Homo sapiens: one gene and its partners. The protein of the gene in region 3 purifies or fractionates together with the protein of the main gene of each other region. This does not show direct contact. Each region holds a gene or a part of one and is shown on either strand. Other genes may lie near its edges.

Region 1 (3,982 bases), on a different chromosome or scaffold from region 3:
TTAAGTGTGTTGAATTTTATATGCTTCTCCTTGGTTTTACCTAGTTTATTTCATTGTTTAGAATTTTGTGTGGTTTGGGAATCCTTAAACTCATGAAGTGAAATAGAAAGCTGAGATGCTGGGCACGTACGGAACGTTCCAGCAGTGTGGGTGAGAAAGGCTGGACGTGGCCTGTCTGGTGCGCTGCCTCATGACTGAAGGTGCAGCAGGCGTACCTGGCTGGGTACTGGGGAGGTGTTTTAAATCCTGTCTTGGCCACGTTTGGATGGGACAGTTGGGCACTCACGTCCTGTGCCTTGCCTTTCTCCAGCTCGGCCGCCTGTCAGTGCAATGCTGCCCCATGTGGTGCTCACCTTCCGGCGCCTGGGCTGCGCCTTGGCGTCCTGCCGGCTGGCGCCTGCGAGACACAGAGGAAGTGGTCTTCTGCACACAGCCCCAGTGGCCCGCTCGGACAGGAGCGCCCCGGTGTTCACCCGTGCCCTGGCCTTTGGGGACAGAATCGCCCTGGTTGACCAGCACGGCCGCCACACGTACAGGGAGCTTTATTCCCGCAGCCTTCGCCTGTCCCAGGAGATCTGCAGGCTCTGCGGGTGTGTCGGCGGGGACCTCCGGGAGGAGAGGGTCTCCTTCCTATGCGCTAACGATGCCTCCTACGTCGTGGCCCAGTGGGCGTCATGGATGAGTGGCGGTGTGGCAGTCCCCCTCTACAGGAAGCATCCCGCGGCCCAGCTGGAGTATGTCATCTGCGACTCCCAGAGCTCTGTGGTCCTTGCCAGCCAGGAGTACCTGGAGCTCCTGAGCCCGGTGGTCAGGAAGCTGGGGGTCCCGCTGCTGCCGCTCACACCAGCCATCTACACTGGAGCAGTAGAGGAACCGGCAGAGGTCCCGGTCCCAGAGCAGGGATGGAGGAACAAGGGCGCCATGATCATCTACACCAGTGGGACCACGGGGAGGCCCAAGGGCGTGCTGAGCACGCACCAAAACATCAGGGCTGTGGTGAGTGCCGCCTGGCGCCGTGATGGTTTCGGTGACCGCACAGCACTCCGGGTGGGCTCCGGGCCAGAAGCACATCTTTTCATTCGCTTTTCTGTGGAGTCATTCACAGTTGTCACCATCCTGCAGACCCGTGTGAGATACAGGGACGCAGGCCCTCGGGGTGTGGCCGCTGGCCTCACTGGCCACGCAGGACGGCTCTGGGAGCGTCCAGGTGTAGAGGGATTGAGGGGCCGCCGAGTGACCCTGCCAGGACCATGCGGCATGAGGTCAGAAGGGACCACTCACTGCCTGTGATGCTGAGGGGCTTTTCGGAGGCCAGCCACGTGTTAGGATGCGTGGTCAGGACCCCACATACACCCGGGTCTTACTCGTTTTTTGTGTGTCCTGTGACCTCAGTCACATCTTCACAGAACTCTCCAACCACATCACTTACCTGGCATTTGTACAGTGTCATAACGTCTCCTATGCACTTGAAGCAATCAAGTAAAAATGAAAACCAAAAGCCAGGAAGGGGAAGGCAGGAAGTGTACCCCACGGAGTCGTGGGCTGACGAGGCGCCATGAGCACACAGCAGGCTGGGCCCTGGGTGGCCTGCGCCGTCACTCCTGGAAGCGGCGCGCCTGTCGGGAGGGACGGGCTCTGGACTCCTCTGTCCTTGCTGAGGGGAGTGACATGCACATGTGCTTCTCCCTGGAGCCTGTGCAGGCAGCAGGCAGTGTCCTCCGTGAGATTGGACAGAGGATTCAGTGGGCCGTGCCTCACGCTGCTTCTCAGTAAGAGCTGAGGGTGTGCTCTGGAGCCTGGCCTGGGTTCTGTCCCGGCTGAGCAGGTGACGATAATTCACGAATCGGCAGAGCTCTGTGTGGGCAGTGCTGTCACCTGAGCCAGTGGTTGGGCTGGGAGTCGATTCCAGCCTGAATGGCGCTGGGTCCCTGAGTCCCAGGCTTGGGCAGGGGCGGAGCTCTGTCGACCTGGTGTCTGCAGAGCCACTCCCCGACCTTCTAAATTCCCTAAAGCCTCTGGCTGTGTGTGGCGCTGTCCTCTGTCCCCAGGGTAAGTGAGTGACCCAGCAGATCTGCTGTGGTTTTGTCGTCATCTTGAGAGGCTGCTAAAGGGGAGCAACAAAGAGCCAGCCTTCTCCTTCCCCTTCCTCAGTGGGGAGGCCCAGAGCTCCTTTCCGTGAGCCCGAGGTCTGTGTGTGCTGTTGCGGGCCACAGTCTTGCTCTTGCTCTCAGCTGTGCTCTCGTCCCCTGCAGGTGACCGGGCTGGTCCACAAGTGGGCATGGACCAAAGACGACGTGATCCTCCACGTGCTCCCGCTGCACCACGTCCATGGTGTGGTCAACGCGCTGCTCTGTCCTCTCTGGGTGGGAGCCACCTGTGTGATGATGCCTGAGTTCAGCCCTCAGCAGGTGAGTTGGGGTCAGGGCTCTCGGTTGCACCCTCAGACTAGGCGCCTTTCCCCTGTCGGGGCCAGGGCTCTCAGCCGCGCCCTCAGCCTAAGCGCCTTTCGCTGGTTGGGGTCAGGGCTCTCGGCCGCGCCCTCAGACTAGGCATCTTTTCCTGGTGTGCAGTCGCCCCTATCCACAGGGGACGTGCCAATGCCGAGACCCTGGGTAGCATGGAACCCTGTACCTACGATGCTTTTTGCTATACATACGTACCTATGATAAAGCTTAATTTATAAGTTAGGCACAGTAAGAGGTTAACAATAACAGAACAGTTATAACCATGTACTGTAATCAAGTTATGTGAAAGTGCTCTCTCTCTTCAAAATACCTTCCGGTACTGTGCTCGTCTGTTGTGAGACTGCAGTGGGCCACGCGTCATTGAAACCGTGAATAGTGAGACTGGATGAGCGGAGGTGACTGTACAGGCCCTGCTGCCCGCGAGCTCCTGCGGCTGCGGCGAATGCTCACGCGCTTGGTTTAAAATAATGCGAGTTTGTTCTTACATGCTTGGAGGCCAGGATTCTGAGACGAGTCTTGCGGAGCTGATGCTGGGTGTGGTAGGGCTGCTCCGTCAGGAGGCTCCAGGGCAAAGTCCGTTCCTGCCTCTTGCAGCTCTGGAGGCCGCCTGTGCCCTTGGCTCCAGCTGCTTCACGTCCAGCTCTGCTTCTGCAGGCACACGGCCTTCTCTCCGTAGTCAGGGCTCCCTCGGCTTCCCTTTGTGCAGCCTATGCGGATATTCCAAGATCATCTCCCATCTTGAGGTCCTTCGCTTCATCCACCTGCAGTTCCCACCACTGCGAGAGGTGACACATTCGGGGTGTAGGGCGTAGGGCGTGACCCTTTGAGCTATGATGTGGCCACTGTGGCAGCCCTCGGTTACTCCAGAGTACTGGCCCAGCTGGAGAGCTGCTTGCTGCGGAGGGTTACTTTGGAGTATTGGCCCAGCTGAAGGGCTGCTGTGGAGTCTCTGTCTCCCCTCTCTGCATGGCTTCCTCTGTAGCGTCTCCCTTGGAGCAGGCAGGGAGGGAAGGACGCGGTGCTGGTCACACAGAGCGCTGGGGTGGGAGCAGTCATCGCCGAGCTGCTGCGCGCAGCCTTGCCTGTGCAGGGCTGTCTCCAGGCAGATCAGGGATGCTGCTTTGGAGGGAAAGGACCTGGGCTCGAGGCGGGACCCTGTGCACAGCATCGGGCCTCGCCTGTCAGTTGGGGATGGCGGTGGCTTTTAGGAGTTGCTGTGGCCCTGTGTGCATTCTAGCTGACTGCAGGCAAGAGTCACTCACCAGGCTGCAGAGGGCATGAGGGGCAGGCCTTGAGCCCACAGGAAGGACACGGTGTGCGTATGTCACAGGTGTGGTGAAGCAGAGCCCTCCGGTGAGGCCATGGACGTTTACCAGCCTCTGCCCGTATAATGAATATGCCTTTTATTCACAGGAAAAAAAGTTTAACACGTGAATGTATGGAAAAGCCCTTAGAATTTGGATCGTATCATGATGGTTCTCAGCACAGAGGAGCCCATCTCTGAGGCCAGATGCCTG
Region 2 (3,982 bases), on a different chromosome or scaffold from region 3:
GGTTAAACACTCACATCTTTCTGTTTGGCAATTCTCCCAAATTCTTGTCCAAGAGCAGAGTGTTCCTTTAGCAAAGACCCTATCTGGCCAAACAGAGAAGCCAGAGATCCAGAAAACAGAACCAAAACAAGAAAGCACAGAAGCAGGCCTAGAAATTCTCCTAAAGATATTAACCGGCACTTAAGATCCAACAACACTGCCCTTTGAAGCAGGCACCTGGGGACTATGTGACACCACGCGGCCCTAGCCCACCTAGAACTGCCTTCAGCACAGGCTTTTCATTCAGGTAAGAGGGGTGCATGATTTTGTAGCACATTTTGTCTGATCTCCCAAATCCCATCAGCCTGTAGTCACACCCTCACTTCCTCTGCTGAAGTTTACCATAGGAATCACCAAGCCTGGATGCCCTCGTCAAAAACCCAACAGGGACTGGTAGGAAGCAACAAAAACCTGACTGGAAAAGTCCAGCTTAGGACCATCTGCTTTAAAAAGTAAGACCCATGGCCACATCCTGACCTGATTATATTCACCTGAAACAATAAAGAATAAAACAGGAGGTGAAGGAGGGGGAAAGCCTGGGGTGGGGTTGTCAGAAGTCTGCTAAAGGAACTGAGAAGGGGGTTCTGAATAGGGCAGGAGGATGGGAGGCCTACATTACCTGCCCTTGTTTCCAGCACTCCCTAAACACATTCCAGTTGCTCTTATTGTTGGGGTCTTGCAAGCACAGCAAGCGATTATCACAAAGCCAATAGTGAGGAGTGTCAAAGCCCAGAATGCTGGGCTTGATGGTTAGTCCTTGAGGCCTCTTAGATAAATCAGAAGTCGTCTTATTTTGCACCAAAGAGGCAAAGATGTCATCAAGGATTTTTGGTGTATTCTTGAGTCCATTTTCTGTCTGAATTGGAGAAAGAACAAAAGTCTCAAATATGTCATTCCCTTACCATCAAGAAACTCCATTCCCATAATGAGTATAGATTACATATCCAGAAGATTCCAAGCCAGGACCCCCAGGCAAAAAGGTACGTCCCCTGTCCCCACTTGACAACTCATAGAAGTGAGGTAACAGGAGAAAGTGGCCCAGCTCAGAACTATAGTCCCATAAAACCCATCCTCCAGTGACTCAGCCTTCTGAACCCACAAAGGTAAGTATGTGATTCAGTCTCCTTTCTACTTTCAGTTCCAACTTCTCTACTCTCTTCCTGTTCTGTCTTCAACTTTAAAACATGGAATACCAACAAACAAACACATACCTTTCCTGTAGAAGAATTCAAGAGATTCCGGAGGAAACCAGAATTGTTGTTGCTTACGGGTGTCAAAATTGTGCTGTTAAACGTATGGAGGACTGTGCTGGATTTGCTTAAAGGTGGGAGGGGTGGAAGGCATTTGATTTCATTCTTTAAAATTGGCATTGTTGGTTGTTTTTCTAAAATAAAACCAAAACATCCAGATGAAAAAACATTCTGAAAGGCAAATCCCTTATTAGTATTCTACTAGCAGAATTACTTTAGAACTTGCTTTCTATTTACTGAAACAAAAAAAATACTTTAGGGAGTAAGTATGAATGATATGATTTACTTAGACGATTCCTCACTGATGTTAAAAACAATAACTATCCAGTACAATGGAATTTTGTAAATTGACCTTTGTATCTAGCAACCCTGACAAATGTTTAGTAAATGTAGATTCTTTTGGATTTTTTGCATGTACTGTCTACAAATATTGGCAGCATTCTCTTTACACATTTTTTTTCCCTGAATGCACTGACCAGGACTTCCAGTACAATGCTTAATAAAGAGTGAAAACAGATATCCTTTGTCTTGTTCTTGAACACAGAAACTGTTTAAAAAAAAAAAAACAAAACCAAACAAACAAAAACCTCAAAGACCAGCTTGGCCAACATGGCAAAACCCCACTTCTACTAAAAATACAAATGTTAGCAGGGCGTGGTGGCAGGCGTCTATAATCCTAGCTATTTAGGAGGCTGAGGCAGGACAATGGCTTGAACCTGGGAGGCAGAGTGCAGTGTTGCAGTGAGCCAAGATCATGCCACTGCACTCCAGCCTGGCTGGACAGAGCAAGATTCCGTCTCAAAAAAACTCAAAACAAATTTTTAAAAAAATTCAACGACTATTTATGATGTCTCCAGTCTTGTTTTTTGGTTTAAACTCTTGATTAAGAATGTTCTTAATTTAAGAAGTTTTTTGTAAATCATTAACAGGTACTGAATTTTACTTAATGTTTTCCTGCATCTTGTCCCATGATTCTTCTACATTTTTGAATGTCAGACTGTATCTTCATTTCTGGAAAAACCTTGAAAAACTTGAATTCTTTTCCGGCCACTTGCTAATTGTCTTACTTCGGCTCAAATGAGCTGGTTTCTATATGCTTCAGCTTCCTCATCAGTAATACAGAAATAATGAGCAGTATTGATGATTGGGCATCACAGAATTACATCACATGTAAAGAGAGGGCCTGGACCACAACAGGAGTTTGAATATTCCTTTTCCTCTTTCTAAGGTATGTATAAACTCACCAGCTGTGCTCTTGCCAGCTTTTCAAATTATTTTTTTCTACAACAGTCATCTTAGACTTAATTTATGAGTTCTTTTAAGAGCTCCTTATCACATTTTTAAAGCTATATAAAGGTTTTTCCAGAAATTCAGATGTAGTCTAACATTCAAATATTCCTTCATTTACAGTGTCAAATTTGATTCATTAAAATTTTGCTCCAGATCTTTGCATGAAAGAAGTGGCCTGCAATTCTTCTCTTCTGTAACACAGCCAGAAGGTGGAAGTCCCTAAATTTTAATGCAGCAAAATTTCTCCTCTTTGGTGCTGCATTTCAAAAACACTTTCATTTGTGGCAGGTTCCAGGATGACTCCAGAGAAGCACTTTCCATTCCACACGACTTCTAACCACTGTTCTCTCAAGTCCTTCCACGAATGGACTAAAATACTCAAGAACAAACACAAAAGCAGGAAACACTCACCCTTGTTTTCCTTGTTGACATTCCCGCTGGTTAGGTCGGCCAGCCAGTTTAGAGGAGATGTGCTGGCTGGACAGGCAGGCTTCATGCTGCCGGCTGGCTTGGAGGCTGCTTCCCCACCCACAGCTGCTGGCTCCAACACTGAGGGATTCTGCTGGAGCACTGCACCAAGAGTCGGTTTTTCTCCAGCTAAAGAAGTCTGTGTTAAGCATTAAAGGACGATTTTACATAAGCTGAAGAATGACAGCTTCCTTTTCTTTTCTTCTCTCCTAATAGCCGACCAACAAGTAAGATAAATATCCAGAACAAAACCACCTAATAGTTAGCCCTGGGTATCCCCACAGCTGCAGTAATCCCGCACTAGTAGAGAATAACTAAAAGGTAGGAGAGATGTCAGCAACTTAAACACAGCAAGGTATTACCCCCCGCACCCTTTCACCAGCCCCTGCTGGTACATATCCCTATTACTCTATGTACCATGCTGGTTTAAAATGACCAGTTTGTGCCTGTCTCCCCTATGAACTCATCCCAGAATTCAGGATAGGCACAGAAAACATGGTTAAAAACGAATAAATGACGCAGGCAGGAAAGGTAAAGCGGTGATTTCAGAAGGAAATGGGATGCAGAGAAAGAGAAAATGCTATTTTGACTTAGCTTTAAAAATGTGATGAGCTCTTAAAAGAACCCATAAATTAAATCTAAGATGACTGCTGTAGAAGAAAATAATTTTAAAAACTGGCAAGAGTGAGTTTATACATACATAAGAAGGAGGAAAAAAAATATTCAAACCCCTGTTGTGGTCCAGGCCCTCTCTTTACATGTGATGTAATTCTGTGATGCCCAATCATCAATATTGCTTCTTATTTCTATATTACTGATGAGGAAGCTGAAGCACATAGAAACCAGCTCACTTCAGCCAAAGTAACACAACTAGCACGTGGAAGGAAAAGAACTCAAATTCAGTTCTGACTCCAAATATTACAAGTCTTCTGCTC
Region 3 (5,409 bases):
AGAAACCCTCAGGGATCTCTGTGTATCAGGAGAGGGAACCCTATAAATACACGCATGTAGGACAATAGGTGGGAGATTCTCTCACAGAAGGATGTGGAAAACAAGTAGAAAAGGGAGAATAAGTAAATCTGCTTGGTGGGTGGACAGGAAAGTTGACAGGAAGGCTTTGTCTCCTCTTTGCTAAGACCAGGAGCTGTTTGAGCTGGTCTTGAAGGAAGGGTAGCAAGTTATCATGTGCAGAGAGGAGGTGAGAGGAGCCCCCAGGTGGAGGAAACTGCCTGGGCTAAGTGTGAGCTGGAAGATGCACTTAGGAACTTCTGGAAGCATCGGAATGCGTGGAGTGTAGGCAGGGGCAGGGGACGGAGGGTGTTGCAATAAGTGAGACCAGAGCAGCCAGTAGTAGCCAGGTCACAGGGCTGGGTGGGGGATTCATGGGCCAAGTCAAAGATCTGAACTGTCTTAGGCCAGGCGTGGTGGCTCACGCCTGTAATCCCAGCACTCTGGGAGGCCGAAGCGGGTGGATCACCTGAGGTCAGGAGTTTGAGACCAGCCTGGCCAACACGGCGAAACCCCGTCTCTACTAAGAATAAAAAAAAATTAGCCGGGCGTGGTGGCGGGCACCTGTAATCCCAGCTACTAGGGAGGCTGAGATGGGAGAATCACTTGAACCCGGGAGGCAGAGGTTGCAGTGAGCCGAGATCGTGCCACTGCACTCCAGCCTGGGCGACAGAGCAGGGCTCCATATCAAAAAAAAAAAAAAAAAAGATCTGAACTGTCTCCTAAGGACTGTGGCAGCCATAGCAGATTTGAAGCAGAGAGAGATGGAATCAGATTAAGTTTCAGGAAGATCACTCAGGCAGATGTAAAAAGGATGGACGGCAGTGCAGAATGGAGAGAACAGGCCGGTGGCTGGGGAACCACCAGGAAAGGCAAGGCTGTGCTCGTGGGCCTGGGGTAGCAGACACAGAGAAGTTTAAGAAGGATGCTTGGCAGGACTCCTTGGCAGCGTAGATGGGCAGGAAAGTGGGGAGGCAGGATATCCCCGGGGCTTCTGGTCTGGATGGGCTGTGTTCGGCTAGCTTAGGAAGACAGAAGCCCAGCGTGTTCGAAAATGCTAGCAAAGTGCTGGACATCGTCAGCACCGTCCCACCATGGAACAAAGCTGTGTCAGCCCTGATGCGCCCAGGGCATTGCGGGTGCCTGGGGATGTCTGTGTATTGAACAGGGTGGAGCTAGAGTGAAGGAGACACAGCAGCCAAGGTCCTGACCAGGTGGTCAGACCTTTCTAGTCTGGAAGGAAGGAGGCTAAGGGGGACATGGCAAGAGTCTAGAAAACCAAGGACTGCTTTGTCCATCACATTGCCAAGGGCTCTGCACAAAACTTTGAAGAGGAAAATGGAATGGAGCTCAAGTATACCTGTCGAGGGCTGGACAAATTCCTGGCTGAGAGGATGGATTGGAGGTCGAGGGGCCCAGCCTGCACTTTTAAGGGTAGAGGACAGCCCCGCCTTTGCCCTTGTCCAGCACAGGATCTGGTGGCCCTGGGCAGCCAGCTCTCTGGCCACAGAGAAACTGCACACCCTGAGGTGGTACTGAGGGCATCTAGGAGCCAGCCCGGCACAGCCCATCCAGGAAGTGGCACAGATACTTGCCGCCGTCTCTGGACCTGGCTTTCTCATCTGTAAAAGGAAGGGCTGATCTGCGTGGTGGTCGTGGTTCCTTCCAGTTTTCATTTTCTGTTATTGTTGCTGACTCGGGTGCAGGATGCACATGGCGATGAGAGGGGCTGGGGACATAGAGAGGCTGGGAGGCAGAAAGGCCACCAGGATCAGGGCCTGGGACTTCAGGGGACCTAGAGCATGGACAGTCATTCATCAGAGGTTTCCTGAGCACTCACTAGGCGCCAGAGACCATTCTAGGCCCTGGGGACAGAGCAGTGAACAAGACAGACCCAGTGCCTGTGCTTAACTTTATGGAGCTCACACTCTGGTAGACGACCTGGGCCTGTGAGTCTCCTAGGTTGTGGGTGCAGCTGAAGTCTTCCTGGGCCCAGGAGGGTGGGTGACCTCAGAGGGTCCCTGTGTATGCCCCTTGCAGGTGTTCTCCGTGGCGCCCCCATTTGAGGTGAATGGCCTCCCACGAGCTGTGCCTCTGAGTCTGCCCTACCAGGACTTCAAAAGAGACCTCTCCGATTACCGAGAACGGGCGCGGTTGCTCAACAGGGTCCGGAGGGTGGGCTTCTCGCACATGCTGCTCACCACCCCCCAGGTCCCACTGGCTCCTGTTCAGCCTCAGGCTAATGGGAAGGAGGAAGAGGAGGAGGAGGAGGAAGATGAGGAAGAGGAAGAAGAGGATGAGGAAGAAGAAGAGGAGGAAGAGGAAGAGGAGGAGGAAGAAGAGGAGGAGGAGGAAGAGGAGGAGGAGGCTGCAGCGGCAGTTGCCTTGGGGGAGGTGCTGGGGCCTCGTAGTGGCTCCAGCAGTGAGGGGAGTGAGAGGAGCACTGACCGGAGCCAGGAGGGTGCCCCGTCCACGCTGCTGGCAGACGATCAGAAGGAGTCCAGGGGCCGGGCCTCCATGGCCGATGGGGACCTGGAGCCTGAGGAGGGCTCCAAAACGCTGGTGCTTGTCTCTCCTGGCGACATGAAGAAGTCGCCCGTCACTGCCGAACTGGCCCCCGACCCCGACCTGGGCACCCTGGCTGCCCTCACTCCTCAGCATGAGCGGCCCCAGCCCACGGGCAGCCAGCTGGACGTATCTGAGCCAGGCACCCTGTCCTCTGTCCTCAAGTCTGAGCCCAAGCCCCCGGGGCCTGGGGCAGGGCTGGGGGCCGGGACAGTGACCACAGGGGTCGGGGGCGTGGCAGTCACCTCCTCACCCTTCACCAAAGTTGAGAGGACCTTTGTGCACATTGCGGAGAAAACCCACCTCAACGTCATGTCTTCCGGTGGACAAGCCTTGCGGTCTGAGGAGTTCAGCGCTGGGGGCGAGCTGGGTCTGGAGCTGGCCTCTGATGGGGGCGCTGTGGAGGAGGGGGCCCGAGCGCCCCTGGAGAACGGCCTCGCCCTGTCAGGGCTGAATGGGGCTGAGATAGAGGGCTCTGCCCTGTCTGGGGCCCCCCGGGAAACCCCCTCAGAGATGGCCACAAACTCACTGCCCAATGGCCCGGCCCTTGCAGACGGGCCAGCCCCGGTGTCCCCGCTGGAGCCAAGCCCTGAGAAAGTGGCCACCATCTCCCCCAGACGCCATGCTATGCCAGGCTCTCGCCCCAGGAGCCGTATCCCTGTCCTGCTCTCTGAGGAGGACACGGGCTCGGAGCCCTCAGGCTCACTGTCGGCCAAAGAGCGGTGGAGCAAGCGGGCTCGGCCGCAGCAGGACCTGGCGCGGCTGGTGATGGAGAAGAGGCAGGGCCGCCTGCTGTTGCGGCTGGCCTCAGGGGCCTCGTCCTCCTCCAGTGAGGAGCAGCGCCGTGCCTCTGAGACCCTCTCAGGCACGGGCTCTGAGGAGGACACGCCCGCCTCTGAGCCGGCAGCGGCCTTGCCCAGGAAGAGCGGGAGGGCAGCCGCCACCAGGAGCCGGATTCCCCGCCCCATTGGCCTCCGCATGCCCATGCCTGTTGCAGCCCAGCAGCCCGCCAGCAGATCCCATGGCGCGGCCCCAGCATTGGACACAGCCATCACCAGCAGGTGAGAAACCGCTGCCAGCCCCAGGGTGGGCAGAGGGTGGCCACAGGCCTCCACCAGGAGGGGCTTCTCCAGAACCAAGGTCAGGGGCTATGGAAGATCAGGAGGGACCCTCAGTGACACCTCCTGTCCAGCACCTCCCAACTGTGCTCTGCCTCACTCTGATTCGGGTTCCAGCCCTGTCACTGGGCTCAGTGAAGTGGCTTCAGTAAGCATGTGTGGAGGGGGTGCCGGAGAGGCCAGGCTTAGGAAAAGCTGATGGGGGCCAGTGGGTCCACACACAGCCTCTGGTATGCCATGGGGCATTGGAAGCCAAAGGATAAAGCCCAGTGCTTTGACTCCTTGGGAGAAAACATTATTTCATATTAATATAAACATAGGTATATTCTAGGTTAGAATGCAAAATCCATGAGAATTTTAAAGATGAAATGAGGACCCCAAAGAAAGCCAGCAGCAGGCTCTTCCAGCAGCAGCCTGGAAGCGTGTGGCCCCTCGAGGTCCTGCCCTGGAGGACAGAGAGCCAGGCCTCAGTTTACCCATCTGTGCCATGGTCTCAGTCTCAGCTCTGAGGATGCCGGACTCCAGTGCTCAGTGCCCAGGAGGATTCTGAAATATTTCTCCTTGTTTTGTTTCTTTGCCCTCTTCTTTTCTCCTGCCTTCTGCTCTCAAGCAGGCTCCAGCTGCAGACGCCCCCAGGGTCGGCCACTGCTGCTGACCTCCGCCCCAAACAACCTCCTGGCCGCGGCCTGGGCCCAGGGCGAGCCCAAGCCGGAGCCAGGCCCCCAGCGCCGCGCAGCCCGCGCCTCCCCGCGTCCACATCCGCCGCGCGCAATGCCAGCGCGTCCCCCCGGAGCCAGTCCCTGTCCCGCAGAGAGAGCCCCTCCCCCTCGCACCAGGCCCGGCCCGGGGTCCCCCCGCCCCGGGGCGTCCCGCCGGCCCGGGCCCAGCCTGATGGCACCCCCTCCCCCGGGGGCTCCAAGAAAGGACCCAGAGGGAAACTCCAGGCTCAGCGCGCAACAACCAAAGGCCGGGCAGGAGGCGCGGAGGGCCGGGCTGGGGCCAGATAATGACGCCCGCTGCTCTCCGCGGTCCCCCACCCTCACCCCGGCCCCCCACCCGCAGCCGGCCACACTGGAGCAGCTCCCAGCACAGCCTTACGCGCCCGACGCGCGCCACCCGCGGCCCCAGCTTTCCGCCTGCACCCGCGAGGACGCGCGCGAGCACACGCGGCGCCCCGCCAGGCCTTAGGGCCCGTGGGGGACGCGGCCCCGCGCCGCGGGGAGGGTCTGCCTCCCCTTCCTCGCCCTGTGTCCTCTCATCCTCCCGCCGCCCGTCAGGCCGGCCAGCCTCACATCAGTCTCTCCGCCCCGGGGAAGGCTCAGCCACTTTTCATCGAGGACTCCACTTCTGGGGACGCCTGGTTCGTTCGCCCACCAGGCCTAGGCTACGCTCCATGCTCCCCCAGCAATCTCTGCCTACACCTCCTGCGGCGCCTTGCCCTCCTCCGACCCCTTTCCAGCCAAAGTCCCCCCACCCCTTCAGAGAAGCAGCCTCAAATTCCAGAAGTGGAGGCTCCAGCCTCCCCGCGAGGGTCCAGCCCCACAGTCTTCTGGGAGCCATTGTGGCCAGGGACGGCCTCTGGACTGCCAGGCTGGGTTGGGGACCCAGGGAACATCGGTCTACTCAGGTGTGAGGGGGCAGGTCTGACCTGCCCCAAAGTTGGCTCCAT
Region 4 (3,982 bases), on a different chromosome or scaffold from region 3:
GGAGTGCAGCGGCACAATCTCAGCTCACTGCAACCTCCGCTTCCCAGGTTCAAGCAATTCTACTGCTTCAGCCTCCCGAGTAGGAAGGATTACAGGTGCCCGCCATCATGCCTGGCTAATTTTTGTATCTTTAGTAGAGATTAGGTTTCACCATTTTGGCCAGGTTGGTCTCGAACTCCTGTCCTCAGATGATCCACCCGCCTCGGCCTCCCAAAATGCTGGGATTATAGGCGTGAGCTACCGTGCCTGGCCAAAATAGGTATATTTCAAAACAGGAAGATAAACAGTTGGATTGCCAAGACATAGTTAAAGGGAATTCTTTGATTTCACTGTTTTACCACTAATCTGAATAAGGTACATGGCAAAAATCTCCAAACCTGCAGATGATTTTAAACAAGCAGCAAAATGTTAGGTGTTTAGAAATTATACTGTAAGTGCCAAAAGAATGCAGAACAGGTGTAAGAAAATGACAAATATGACTCTGTACAAGCAGTACAGAGTAATAACTTAGAAGGAAAATAATCCAAAGCCAGATTTACAATGTAACGTCTCCAGTGAGGGATTTGATTAACTCAACGTGCTGCTACAGGCGAAAACATGCTCATGACCTCGAGAAAGGTATTAAAAGTAAAGCAATATAAAATAACCTGTTATCTACATATGTATAATAAAACACTCTATTTGTCCATACTTTTAACACTGAGAACCAGTATAGTTCAGGTCATCATACTTCACAAAAGACACCAAGAAACTAAAAGTTAAGAAGGGCCTATCTGGACTATTTTTCAAAATATGAAGATTTTACTCTTTTTAAAGTTTACACATTTTAGCTAACAATGGCCATGATCAGAACTTATAAAATCCTGCGGGTATACGTAAATGTGAAAAAGATATAATTCATTTAGTAAATCCTATAATGAGAAGCCCTCTAAAATTTGGAGGACAAATAAAAACAAAATCCTTACATATAGCAGATATTAAAAAAAAAGTCTTGCTACCTCAAAACATGTCAAATGTAAACAGCTGAAACATGTCCTTTAGTAATACTATGAAAGACAGTAGTAGGCTGGAGGGATACACATCTATGTAATATTAAAATTATTTAAAGCCTAAAAGATCTATTTTTAGTAAACAATTGAATGAAATAGTATTTTGTTCAAGCACTAACACACCAAGTGAATTCTTCATCGCTAGAGGTAGTTAGGTGTAGCTTGGGTAATTATCCAATAAAGACAATAAAAGAGAGGAGAGTCAGGCATCAGATACAAAATATTGCAACCCTAAAATTTTATAATTCAACTAAACTTTCCGCAAAAGCAAGGGAGTGCCTAGTTGACTATCTCACTGCTACCCAAGACTGCTTCACATTTCATCCAGCTACTATCCACAGACTCAACATCTCGCCTCTGATTTTCAGTTTTGCTGTGACTAATAGGCCAGGCTGTTGTTTTATTCAACATCCCACTTTCTGGAGATTCTGCTTTCCTTACCACTGCAGTAATGACACTTTCAAGCTTCTTTATTTTTTTCTGCAACAAACTGAAGACTCTTATCGCAAATGGAAAGTGGGTTTCTTTTAAAGATGAACAACAAGAGACGAGCACAGACAGGATCACATGAAACGTTACTTTCTGCTTCAGGTTAAAGGACTCCTCCTCACCCACGCTTATTAAATCCTCCACCTTGAAAAATAAACACACTCTATTACCAGTTGCTCTTGATTTTCATAAAACAATTTTTTCAACTCAGGTCTATCTAGGTATTATGTGTTTTACATTTAAAGTGAGATGACAAACAGAAAGCCTTTATAAAGTACTAAGCACTGATTTCTAAGTAATTATAAGAATAATTTCAGAAACTGTAATGAACATAATTGCACTTGCCAACTGGTTAATGTATTTAAATCACACATCTAATCCTTTACAAAGGTTTATTTAATAAGGCAAAGATAATTTTCTCCTCTTTGGGATTATATTTTGCTATTTTAACAACAACAACAACAAAAAGACTAATATTTTAAATGGGAATGAGAAAAAATGGTGGTAAAAAGGATATATTATTCTTATGGGTGTGATATGGATCCACATTGAAAAAATATATAAAATGTTAAAAGATTTCAAACATTGCACAGAATATATTAAACAACACTGCAACGTTTAAAGTAAAACCAAGTACTCAAGAATAAAAGAAATTTTTTTTAAGAAAAATCTAGTAAAGCAAAAGCTGAGAATTTAATAAGAGTATGAGAAAGAAATCCAGGGGGTGGACTTTCAAAGCATACTTACCATCTTTAACATTGAAGAAGGATCTCCTAAATTTATATTATCAGCCAACAACTCAATCATCTTCTGATTTGCTACACCGATTAGTTTTCCTGGCTTTGTGCTTTTAATTACATTTTCAAGAGCTGTAAAGTAAAATCGAATGCAGAGAGCTCTTATGTCACCAACACTCAAAGAATCACATGAAGAATTCAGGCAAACATTTTACTATTGTTTATGAAGGTTTGCTTTCTATTTTTCCTTGTATCCGATTCTGAATTTGTCTATGAATTGGCTTCCTTTTCACTGTATACTTTTTATCTTGGCAAAAATTTTAAAAGACCTTACTGGCATATAAGCATGACCAACAATAAATTTTAAATTTTCCTTGTTTTCTTTTGTGTTATCTGTTCACTTTTTCTAAAAAAACAACTGAATTTTTTACCTTCTTCCCAGCCTCTTAATAGAGGGTGCAGGGAGCAGATTCCTGATTTTGATAAATATATAGCAATTTTCATCTCAGCAGATTCCGTATCATCATTATTGATAACCATAAATGGCAGCAAACATACAACCACCTGATTTGACAACTGATCATTTTCACTCAGTATCTCTTCTTTAATTAATATGTCAGCGGCTATCTTAAGTACCTCGTACCTAAAAGACATGCAAGCACACTTGGTTGAAAGACACATTGGAAGGCTTCAATTGGGCAAAAATTCATCATTACATTACTCCAGCTTAACTGACAATATCCTGGTCTCCTGACCAAAACTATTATTCAGATACACTAAGACACCACTTAAAATCCATGCCAATAACAGAGTTATCTGTGACAATATTTTTATTTATTTATTTTTTGTACAAGTGCTGGGATTACAGGCATGAGCCACTGTGCCTGGCCAACAATACTTTTAATCTGCTCATCCTGTCTAATCTTAAAAAAAAAATAATAATTTTTCTTAGAGAAATCACTAGAGGTTAACTATAACATAAGACATATCACACTAGATGTCTCAACTCTACCGGAAATCAGGTTCACTCAGGCACTCAAAAAAAATGAACCAAGCACATCCTACATGATAGATATCTACCCATACGATAGATACAAAAACACGTAAGACACACTCTCATCCTCTATGGAGCTTGCTTACTTTTTCTTGCAAAAAGCTTTGGTGCCAAAAATGAAATAAACAGAGCTCATTAAAAACTTACCACAGATGGTATCATGTGTCTCTGAACTTATTTTTTAATTTGTTTAACACATTGGTATTTGTTTTTAATTATAAAGTAAAAATTACATAAAGCAGCAAATTAGAAAGTCCTACCCATCTTACTTCCCAGAATGCAATATCATACATTATATACTTCCTTTTGCATTTTATTAAGAGAAATTCCAAACATAGAGAACAGTATAATGAACACACACAAACACAAATTAATTAACTGTATAATGAAAGAGAGTATTACAGTAAGATCTGTTCTACTACCACGACAAAAGGGTCATGTAATCAAAGCCTTAAAAAAAAAAAGAAGAAGAAATAGAAAGAACTTGATATAAGAACTTCATCAATTCAAAATAGTATGAGGAGAAATGAATACATACCATTCTCCATTCTTTGAAAGTTCTGCTCTTTGAAAGAGATTCAGAAGATTTGAAATCGTCACTTCTGAACTGAAGTGTTCTTTGAAAATCTAAAGGGAAAAAAATATCCAGAGTA

The links. The genes of interacting proteins can lie anywhere in the genome.
Region 1: the proteins of TTBK1 (region 3) and ACSF3 purify together in Homo sapiens (affinity purification with mass spectrometry; one large-scale study listed by BioGRID and IntAct). This does not show direct contact.
Region 2: the proteins of TTBK1 (region 3) and KDM3A purify together in Homo sapiens (affinity purification with mass spectrometry; one large-scale study listed by BioGRID and IntAct). This does not show direct contact.
Region 4: the proteins of TTBK1 (region 3) and HEATR1 purify together in Homo sapiens (affinity purification with mass spectrometry; one large-scale study listed by BioGRID and IntAct). This does not show direct contact.

Annotation. Positions count from the first base shown.
Region 1 is NC_000016.10:89,100,352-89,104,333, forward strand, and holds part of ACSF3 (malonate--CoA ligase ACSF3, mitochondrial isoform 1 precursor), read left to right. Parts: intron 1-310; 5' UTR 311-330; coding exon 331-996; intron 997-2,252; coding exon 2,253-2,408; intron 2,409-3,982. UniProt on the Homo sapiens protein: Catalyzes the initial reaction in intramitochondrial fatty acid synthesis, by activating malonate and methylmalonate, but not acetate, into their respective CoA thioester. May have some preference toward very-long-chain substrates.
Region 2 is NC_000002.12:86,479,371-86,483,352, reverse strand, and holds part of KDM3A (lysine-specific demethylase 3A), read right to left. Parts: intron 3,187-3,982; coding exon 2,991-3,186; intron 1,424-2,990; coding exon 1,251-1,423; intron 896-1,250; coding exon 659-895; intron 1-658. UniProt on the Homo sapiens protein: Histone demethylase that specifically demethylates 'Lys-9' of histone H3, thereby playing a central role in histone code.
Region 3 is NC_000006.12:43,280,630-43,286,038, forward strand, and holds part of TTBK1 (tau-tubulin kinase 1), read left to right. Parts: intron 1-2,097; coding exon 2,098-3,683; intron 3,684-4,350; coding exon of another isoform or gene 4,351-4,353; coding exon 4,354-4,747; 3' UTR 4,748-5,409. UniProt on the Homo sapiens protein: Serine/threonine kinase which is able to phosphorylate TAU on serine, threonine and tyrosine residues. Induces aggregation of TAU.
Region 4 is NC_000001.11:236,583,535-236,587,516, forward strand, and holds part of HEATR1 (HEAT repeat-containing protein 1), read right to left. Parts: intron 3,957-3,982; coding exon 3,868-3,956; intron 2,919-3,867; coding exon 2,707-2,918; intron 2,408-2,706; coding exon 2,286-2,407; intron 1,683-2,285; coding exon 1,491-1,682; intron 1-1,490. UniProt on the Homo sapiens protein: Ribosome biogenesis factor; required for recruitment of Myc to nucleoli. Involved in nucleolar processing of pre-18S ribosomal RNA. Required for optimal pre-ribosomal RNA transcription by RNA polymerase I.